Regions from separate parts of the Homo sapiens genome. Here region 2 is linked to region 1. The links come from fine-mapping of genetic effects on gene expression. A gene starts in region 1. The other region holds a variant in brackets. All regions are shown on one strand. Distances are between the middles of the regions.

The links. PIP is the estimated chance that this variant, and not a neighbour inherited with it, causes the effect.
Region 2: its variant is the best candidate, but not a certain one, in a credible set for the expression of SGTB in whole blood (INTERVAL, PIP 0.85).

The regions. Positions count from the first base shown.
Region 1 is chr5:65,719,801-65,725,017 of GRCh38, forward strand. SGTB (small glutamine rich tetratricopeptide repeat co-chaperone beta) reads right to left here and starts at 2,309. Exons shown (of 11, transcript NM_019072.3): 1 at 2,117-2,309; 2 at 908-1,029. The coding sequence starts at 1,007. It overlaps NLN (neurolysin), which reads left to right and starts at 2,405. Exons shown (of 13, transcript NM_020726.5): 1 at 2,405-2,614. The coding sequence starts at 2,574. RefSeq lists silencers at 1,880-1,929, 1,990-2,039, 2,110-2,719 and enhancers at 2,996-3,817, 3,590-3,669.
Region 2 is chr5:65,596,617-65,602,112 of GRCh38, forward strand. TRIM23 (tripartite motif containing 23) reads right to left here. Exons shown (of 11, transcript NM_001656.4): 8 at 435-564. Among named protein-coding and RNA genes, the nearest start is that of TRIM23, 25 kb to the right of the region's middle. The variant T/C (reference allele first, on the strand shown) is at 2,997.

The DNA of each region.
Region 1 (5,217 bases):
ATCCAATATTAAAGTTAACGTAAAACACAGGTGAAATGCTCCCATTTCAAGTTCCAAATTAGGCACTGGTCAGATCTCACTAGTGGTATAATTATTAGACTTTTACATAGTGCTATTAAAATGACTCAGGTATTTTTATATATTATTTCTAAACTGGATGCTTTCCTATTAGGAAATGGAGACAACAAGATCTTCAGAGTATTAACCAGGATTTAAATCTCAGCTTTATCACATATCAGCTGTGTTATCTGCTTACGCTATTTGGTTTCATTTTCTTTTTCTTTTTTTTTTTTTTTTTTTGAGATAGGGTCTCGCTCATGGCCCAGGCTGGAGTGCAGTGGTGTGATCTCAGCTCACTGCAACCTCCACCTCCTGGGTTTAAGCCACCCTCCTATCTCAGCCTCCTGAGTAGCTGGGACTACAGGCAAGTGCCACCACACCTGGCTACTTTTTGTATTTTTAGTAGAGACAGGGTTTTGCCATGTTGCCCAGCCTGGTCTTGAACTCCTGACCTCAAATGACCTACCTGCCTCGGCCTCCCAAAGTGCTGGGATTACAGGCATGAGCCACCAAGCCTGGCCCTGGTTTTATTTTCTCACTTGTTAAATGGGGATAATACTAACATAACAGTTGCTGTGAAGAAAAAATTGCCTATAATATGAACAGCATACTTCTGACATATAGTATTTGTTCAATAAATGAACAATAGTCCTCTTAATTTGTTGTTAAAACAAACAAAACAAGCTTCAGAAAATGGAAATACGATAACCTTATAGTCAGGCCTCTCCTCTTGAAAGATCAAAAAAAATTCTGATTATGTTACAATAGATCATCAAGTTGGGCTTACAGCTATTTTAGTCTTCGTTTATAATTATAATATAAATGAACACAAAGAGCAGATGCATACCTTCCAAACTTTCTTGTTCATCCGAGGTGTAAGTGTCCATCTGACTTTGTTCCCGTAAGAAACGAATAACTGCATAAACCAGGTGCTTGATAGATGACATTTTAGAAGCTTAAACACTTTTCCTTGATAAGAAAAATGAAAACACTGAACTAAGTTATTTTAAAGAATCAGTCAGGAAAGTCATAAATTACAAAGATGATATGGGTTATAAAGTGTATTAAAGGTAAAAACAAAACACAAAACTGTATGACCTTTCATCTTTTCTCTTTGTAAAGAGTCAGGAGAGCACAAAGTATTGTGAAGGTAATTTATTACATATTTTCATTAATACCCAGTGGTATACGAGTATGTTAAATCTTGGAATAAGTAAAAATGTCTTCAAAACATGTACAGCATAAGCTTAGACTGTCACTGCATATCTCACCATACAGAAATCCCCTAAAGGCCTCAGTACTAAGTTAAGAGGCATTTCATACTGCTGACTAAAAGCTGATGTATACCAAGCATCTTCCTCTTTTTCATGGGATCTAAAAAAAGTATTAATAATGTACACTCTACCCACTTTTGTAGGTTGAGAGTTATTTGATGAGGAAACACATTCGCGAAAGGTTATTCAAGTGGTGAGTGTCGTTCTTAATAAAAATGGCATTTCTATTTAATCAGCAGACATGTCAGGAAATCGCTGCCCAAGTCGATGGATACTACAAGCCGACCGGCGCTCCCTGCAGAGGCTGTGCTCTCGTGGACAAGCTGGAAGCTCCCGGTCATGTTCATTCACATGGAATACTATCGCATCCAAACAGTGGCGCAGGGCCAGGCGGCATTCATGGCTGATTTCCACCAAATCGCATCATCCATCTGCTCCCCAGGTTCCCTAATTCAAAGCCAGGGTGTGGTACCCGCCGCTATAATGTTTATTATTTGTGTAGTTATTTTAAAGGCGATGTCAGCCTCTAGGCCACGGGGTCATAAGCACTAAATAAGGCCCCAGGGCAGAAGGTAAAAACAGAATGGGGGGAAAAGGGGTGAGAAGAGGGAAATAGGCTTCTCCCCCTTCCTCTCCCCAGAGCGCATCGAGCTCCCCCTCCCTTCCGTCCTCCCTCAGGTACCCGGCCTCGCCTCGGCCCTGCCCGGTGTGCAGCGGGTGCCGGTGCGGGCCCCGGTCCGGAGCGGCGGGAGGCGCACCCTTGCCAGACAGAAGCCCCTTACCAAGCAGGAGGACGCGAGACGACTGCTGCTGGCCCGCGGGGTTCCGTAGGCAGGCCCGCCCGACCCCTGGTCCTCGGGGCTGGAGCCCGGCTCGGGATCGCAGCACTGGTCGCGGCGGCGCAAACTTCCCCGGCCCCTAGGCCGTAGACCCCAGAACCCACCAGGCTGTGCTCTCTCTCAGGCGGCAGGGTCTGGCCAGCACCGCCCCTGGGGCGGGGCCGGACGCGAGGGCTGGGGCGGGGCCAGACACGCGAGCTGGGGCGGGGCACGGCGCGGGGCGGGGCTGGTAGGCGCCGGCGTGGAGCTGCCGCACGTGGGAGGGCGCTGGCCAGGCAGCCACTGTGGCCTCTGCGGCTAGGCCGGCTCGAGACTCCCGGGCGCCCAGGCGCTGCCGCCCGCCTCGCCGCCCCACGCCGAAGGACCACGCGCCCGCCGCCGCCAGCCTCTCAGCGCTCCCATGATCGCCCGGTGCCTTTTGGCTGTGCGAAGCCTCCGCAGGTACCTCCAGCGCGCGGGTTAACCTTGGCCGTGGGCAGGGCGGGGTCTTTCGCCGTGTGGTGCCTGGAGCCCGGACCCACCCCTTCCCGACCGCGCCTCTCCGACGCTCCCGGGACGCACCCTCCCCGCGGCTTGCAAGGTGGACCCCTGGGGGACACCTGGCGCGGCCACCTGGGGCCACCTTTCCCGCCTCCGCTCCCTCGGGAGGACGTCCATTCCTCTTTGTTTGGGACTGCCTCAGCCGCAGTCAGCGAGGCTGGTCACAGACGCGGCCCAAAATGAATGCAAATAGTTTGGATAAGAAAATCATTTCACGTTCAATCCCAATGCAGAACTACAGACCTGTCATTAAAAGTGCCGCAGCTGTGGACTCAGAACAATTGTGTTTGCTCCTCGCGCCCATTATTAGCATTCCAATCGTTTAACATCCACCCGAGATGAAACCTCTTTGGTGGTGTTGCTTGTTTCCGTCCATGCTCTCTGACTTCCTTTTTTATTTTCCTCCTCCCCATAAAACAAACATTCTGCCTCTTGCCGGTGCAAATTGACTTGGCCCAAAATGGAGAAAATGATCGCTTGGACACGGCTTTGGGCAGCCTGAGCTGCTGTTTTGGATTGCTTCCTAGCCCTCTAACCACACCCCACTGCAACAGACCAGTAGCAAGATGGTGAGGGAATTAAATTCTTTGCACGGATGCGCTGGTTTTCGGAAACAATGCCGCCACCATCCCCGTTTCCAAATCTGCCCAGAACTGTAAATCCAAATGAAGATTCAACAGAATAAAGAAAATGTGTGCTTCTTGCTAGCTATCAACAAAACTACTTTGTAACATGTCAGCATTTAAGCTTTCTACAGTTCCCTTTTGCACATTGCCACTCGTCTGTGTGGATGGAGCTTTGTGTTGCTCAGTCCGTAGAGTTAGGGAGCAGGCAGGCGACAGTGGTTAATTACAAAGAGTTAATGTGGTGATTGGTGACCATATTTCAGCCTGTCGTTTTTTGCTAGTCTCCAGGCTGCAATCGATATAGCTGTCAAATGAAGTTATACCAAGAAATGAAGACTTCACATAATGCAGGGGTGAGAGGAGGGAATAAATCTTCATATAAGAGCAATTCTCGGCCGGGCGCTGTGGCTCATGCCTGTAATCCCAGCACTTTGGGAGGCCGAGGCGGGTGGATCACGAGGTCAGGAGATCGAGACCATCCTGGCTAACACGGTGAAACCCCGTCTCTACTAAAAAATACAAAAAATTAGCCGGGCGTGGTGGCGGGCGCCTGTAGTCCCAGCTACTCGGGAGGCTGAGGCAGGAGAATGGCATGAACCCGGGAGGCGAAGCTTGCAGTGAGCCGAGATCGCACCACTGTACTCTAGCCTGGGCGACAGAGCAAGACTCCGTCTCAAAAAAAAAAAAAAAAAAAAAAGAACAATTCTCAAACTTTTTATTCTCAGGACCCCTTTACCTTTCAAAAATTACCGTGGACCTAAGAGCTTCTGTTTGTGTGGTATATCTGTCTATATTTACCATATTAGACATTAAAGCTGGAAAAAAATTAAAGTAGTTGTTAATTTACAAAACTAATAAATAGGCTAGGTGCATAAATAGTGATTTTAATGAAAAATAACTATTTTCCAAACCAACCCCCCCGCCCCCCAATCAGTGAGAAGATTAACATTGTGGGGTTTTTTCCCTTTTTTTTAAAATTGTGGTAAGATATAACAAAATTTACCATTTTGATAATTTTTAAGTGTACAATTGAGAGGTACAGCCAACACCACTGTCCATCTCCAGAACTTGTCATCATCCCAAACTGAAACCCTGTACCTATTACACAATAACTGCCCATTACTTCCTCCCCCAATCCCTGGTTAACCATTATTTTTTCTCTATGAATTTGAGTATTTCAGGTCCCTTATATAAGTGGAATTAGACAATATTTGTCCTTTTGCGTCTGGTTTATTTAGTATAGCGTTTTTAAGGTTTATTCGTTTTGAAGCATGTGTCGGGATTTCCTTTTTAAAACTGAATAATATTTCATTGTATGTATATACCACATTTTGTTTATCCATTTGTCAGTGGACATTTGGGTTGCTTCCACCTTTTGGCTATTGTGAATACTACTACTATGATCATTAATGTGCACATGTCTGTTTGAATCCCTGCTTTTAATTCTTTGGGATACTGTATGTACCTAGAAGTGAAAATTGCTGAGTCATAGGATAGTACTATGTTTAGTTTTTGAAACCATACTGTTTTCTTCAGTGGCTGTACCATTTTTACATTCCCATTGGCAGTACCTAAGGATTCCAATTTCTCCACATCATCATCAGCACTTATTTCCTGGTTTTGATAACAGTTATCCTAGGAGTGGCATTGTTTCTTTTTTTTTTCTTTTTTTTTTTTTTTGAGACAGAGTCTCTCTCTGTCGCCCAGGCTGGAATGCAGTGGCGCTATCTCGGCTCACTGCAAGCGCCGCCTCCCGGGTTCACGCCATTCCCCTGCCTCAGCCTCCCAAGTAGCTGGGACTACAGGCGCCCGCAACCACGCCCGGCTAATTTTTTTTTTTTATTTTTAGTAGAGACGGGGTTTCATCCTGTTAGCCAG
Region 2 (5,496 bases), 120 kb before region 1:
CTGTGACTTATCAAATTATCTACATGCAGCAATATCTACTGAAGCCTAATCAACCCCATTCCTACTCCTACGTGGTGAATGTATACCTGTAACAGCTCCTAGCCCTCTAAACCTCCACCAAGGTCCTTAGGACCTTGGGATCCATGTACCTTCCAGCTCTGTTCCACAACTACCCCCCACCCCACACCCTCAGCCAGGATCACCAATCCTCTATTCCTTCCAACTGTCCCACCAATACTCTGTTTCTTCTTTTTATCCCCATCCACATTTCAATCCCATAGTCATACAATCTTGCATTTTTTCTCTGAGATGCTGATATCTTAGAGCCAGAAAAGAGCCCACCACCATGACAGATCAGTATCAAATAAGACCCCAAGAACTTGGCTGTAAGCTAGGGTTTGTCTATTAAGGTAAAAACCAATATTCATACTTACCAATTGTTGGAATGGGCTGCATGAATTCATCCTGTTTTAACTTAAACAAGATAGTAGTTTTTCCAGCACCATCCAATCCTAACGTAACGACCCGAATTTCCATTTTTGGTCCAATGTGAACTCGATTATCCTACAATTTAAATATTTTTAAATATGTTTGACATGCAGTTAGAAAGTAATAGCATTTAGCACCTTTATTATTTCTACATCTCCTATTCATTCCTCAACCATTGCAATCTGAATTGTATTCCTCAAAATACTGAGTCTGATCTCAAGAAGATGAAATCCTTCCCCATGGCTAAATCTTGCCTTAGTAAAACTGACCACTTTGTCTTTGTATAACAGAATATACATACCCACTTAATTTTCTCAGATTTTCTAACTCAAATGAATCCTCTAAATCTTAAACATGTTTTTATGCTATACTAAAAAAATCACAATAAGGGTAAATCAATTAAAATGAAAAAGTGCTGCTCAATTCCCAGAAATTTCTACTATGAATCTGATGTATATCCCTCCAGACACTTTCCATGCACATACTGGCCAACATACACAAACAAAACAAATTTTTTTTTAAAAAAGTATTACCCACACATTGAAACTAATGTGTTTCACTCAACAGTATATTATGGAATCCTGTCAATACATATTGACCAACCTTTTTCTTTTAATGGCTTCTTTACATTTCATAAACCACAATTTAACTAAACCCCCAACTGATAGATTTTAGGTAATTTCTGATTTTATGATATTACAAATAATGCTATAATGAACATTTTTATATATTACTAGCTGCATGATTTCTCTGCTTCACTTCTTTCATCTCATAAAAGGAGGATTAAAATAGTACAAAATTTACATAGGATTCTTGAAAGGATTAATTTTTAAGAATACATATAAAAGTCCTTACAACAGTTCCCAAAATATATGTGTTATTTTTGCTTACTCCTTTGAGCACTCTTTGCTTGGATTTTATGATACAAACTTTTCCTGGTTTGGTTTTATCCCATTTTTGGATGTTCCTTCTAATTTTTCTTTAATCCAGCTCTTAAATGTTGGTATTCTTGAGGGTCTATATGAGGCCTCCTTCTCATTCTACATATTTTCATTCTCTTCATGAGCTTTAATTACCATGTATATTATGGCTCCAAATCTATACTTAAGTCCAGTTATACACCTCAGAAATAAAACAATATATGGAACAGAACTACTTCTGTGAGAACTCTAGAGAACAGTTAAGAAACTACAGCACCCAGGCCATAAAACCAAGAAGGCATTCCAGTGAAAGGGGTAATAAAATTTGGGGCATTCTGTGCACTCATCCCTGCCCTTCCCCATATCCAACATAGTGAGGATGAGGTGCAACCAGGAGGAAACTACAAAATACTAGCAAACTGAATTCAACAACACATTAGGCCGGGCGTGGTGGCTCATGCCTGTAATCCCAGCACTTCGGGAGGCCGAGGTTGGGGGTGGATCACCTGAGGTTAGGAGTTCGAGACCAGCCTGACCAACATAGAGAAACCCCGTCTCTACTAAAAATACAAAATTACCCAGGCATGGTGGCGCACGCCTGTAATCTCAGCTACAAGGAGGCTGAGGCAGAAGAATCGCTTGAACCCGGAAGGTGGAGAATGCAGTGAGCCGAGATCGCGCCATTGCACTCCAGCCTGGGCAACAAGAGCGAAACTCCGCCTCAAAAAAAAAAAAAACACATATTAAAGGGATTGTACGCCATGACCAAATGGGCTTTATAACTGGAAGGCAAGAATTATTCATCATCAATCAGCATAATACACAGAATGAGAGAAAAAAAGCACGTAATCATCTCAATAGTTGCAGAAAAAGCATTTAACAAAATTCAATACCCTTTCATAATAAAAACATTCAACAAACTAGGAGTAGCAGGAAACTGCCTCAGTTAACATACACCATATAAGAAATGCCCACAGCTAACATCATACTCAAAAAACTGAAAGCTTTTTCTCTAAGATAAAGAACAAGAAGATGCCCACAGAGCAATTAGGCAAGAAGAATAATAAAAGACATCCAAATTGTAAAGGAAGATGTAAAATTATATCTCTTCACAGATGACATGATCTTGTATGTAGAAAACCCTGAAGAGTCCACACAAAAAGACCTATTAGAATAAAGTCAACAAAGTTTCAGGATATAAAATCAACATGAAAATCAGTTGCATTTCTATACATTAATGATAAAAATCCCAAAAGGAAATTAAGGAAACAATTCTACTTAAAATAGCATCAAAATTATACTTTCAGGGATCATTTTTATAGTTTATGACTAAAGAAGTTTCTCTGAACATGTACAGAAAAAAAAGTTTAAGATACTTAGGAATAAACTCAACCAAGATGGTGAAAGACTTAAGATACTATGTTGGTGCAAAAGCAACTGCGGCTTTTGCCAGTACTTTTAATGGCAAAAACCACTATTACTTTTGCACCAACCTAATATGTAGGCGTACACCTAACCAAGATGGTGAAAGACTTGTACACTAAAAACTACAAATATTGCTAAAATAAATTAAGACATAAATAGACA[T/C]TCCATGTCCATGGATTGAAAGACATAAAATATTAAGATATGAATAACAGCCCAGGTAATTTATATAGATTCAATGCAATCCCTATCAAAATCCCAATCATGTTTTTTGTGGAGATAGAAAAAATTAAGCTAAAATTTATAAGGAAGCTCAAGTGACCCTGAATAGCCAAAACAATTTTGAAAAAGAAAAAAGTTGGAGGACTCACACTTCCTTACTTCAAAATATATTACAAAGCTAATGTATTGTTCTGTTTTTGCACTGCTATAAAGAAATACCTGAGACTGGGTAATTTATAAAGAAAAGTTTAATTGGCTCACAGTTCCACAGGCAGTACAGGAAGCATGATGCTGGCATCAGCTTGGCTTCAGGGAAAGCCTCAGGAAACTTACAATCATGGTGGAAAGCAAAGAGGGAGTGAGGCATTTCACATGGCAGGAGCAGGAGCAAGAGAGAGGGTGGGGGAGGTGCCACACACTTTTAAACGACCAGATCTCATGAGAACTCACCTATTATGGCAAAGACAGTACCAAGGGGGATGATACTAAACCATTCATGAGAAACTGCCCCCATGATCCAGTCACCTCCAACCAGGCCCCATTTCAACATTGGGGATTACAACTGGAAATGAGATTTGGGCAGGAACATAGATCCAAGCCATATCAGCTACAATAATGAAAACTATGTGGTACTGGCATAAAGATGAGACATACAAACCAACAGAACAGAAGAGAGAGCCCAGAAATAAACCCTCAGGAATAGGGTCACATGATCTTCAACAAGGGTGCAGGACCACTCAATGAAAAGACAGTCTCTTCAATAAATGATGCTGGGGAAACTGGATATCTACATGCAAAAGGATGTTATGTATCTTACACCACCTAAAAAAATTAACTCAAAATGGCCATAAACTTAAGACCCCAAACCATAAAACTCCTAGAAGAAAAAACAGAGGAAAAGCCTCATGACATTGCATTTGAGAGTGACTTCAGGGATACACGAAAAGCACAGTAAAAAAAAAAAAAAAAAAGCAAAAATAGACTACATCAAATTTACAATTTTTGTGCATAAAATGACAAAATCAACAGAGTGAAAAATTGACCTATGAAATGGGAGAAAATATTTGAAAGTCACAGATCTGATAGGGAATTAATATCCAGAATATACAAAGAACTCCTACAATTCAACAACAAAAATAGTCAACCCAATCAAAAAGTGAGCGAAGGACAGAAATAGACATATTCAAGGCAATATACAGATGGCCAACAATTATATGAAAAGATGGTTAATGGCACTAGTCATCAGAGATATGGATATCAAAACAAATAAGGTATCATTTCAAACCAATCAGGATGGCTACTATCCAAAAACAGAAAATAACAAGTGTTGGTGAAAATGTGGAGAAACTGCACCCTTGTGCACCACTGGTGGAACTGTAATATGGTGCAACCATTATGGAAAACAGTATGGGGATTCCTCAAAAAATTAAAAACAGAACTACTATATGATCTACCAACTTCACTTCTGGGTATATATCCAAAAGACCATGAAAGCAGGGTCTTGAAGAGATATTTGTACACTCACGTACACAGCAGCACTATTCCCAGTAAACCAAGAGGTGGAAGCTACCCAAGTTTCCATCAACAGATGAATGAACAAACAAAATGTGGTATACACATTGTATTAGTCCATTTTCATGCTGCTGATAAAGACATACCCAAGACTGGGAAGAAAAAGAGGTTTAATTAGACTTACAGTTCCACATGGCTGGGGAAGCCTCAGAATCATGACAGGAGGCAAAAAGCACTTCTTACATGGCAGCAGCAAGAGAAAAATGAGGAAGAAGCAAAAGCGGAAACCCCTGATAAACCCATCAGATCTCGTGAGACTTAATCACTATCACAAGAATAGCACAGGAAAGACCAGCTCCCATGATTCAATTACCTCACCCTGGGTCCCTCCCTAACACATGGGAATTCTGAGAGATACAATTCAAGTTGAGATTTGGGTGGGGGCACACCCAAAATCTCAAGCATATCATTCTGCCCCTCGCCCCTCCAAACCCTGCCCTTACAGCAAACTTCTGCCTAGGCTTCCAGGTGTTTCCATACATCTTCTGAAATCTAAGCAGAGGTTCCCAAACCTCTATTCTTGACTTCTGTGCACCCACAGGCTCAACACCACATGGAAGCTGCCAAGGCTTGGGGATTCCACCCTCTGAAGCCACAGCCCGAGCTCTACATTGGCCCCTTTCAGCCACAGCTGGAGCAGCTGGGACTCAGGGCATCAAGTCCCCAGGCTGCACACAGCATGGGGACCCTGGGCCCAGCCCATGAAACCACTTTTTCCTCCTGGACCTCCAGGCCTGTGATGGGAGGGGCTGCCATGAAGGTCTCTGACATGGCCTAGAGACATTTTCCCCTTGGTCTTAGGTATTAACATTAGGTTCCTTGCTACTTATGCAAATTTCTGCAGCCAGCTTGAATTTTTCCCCAGAAGATG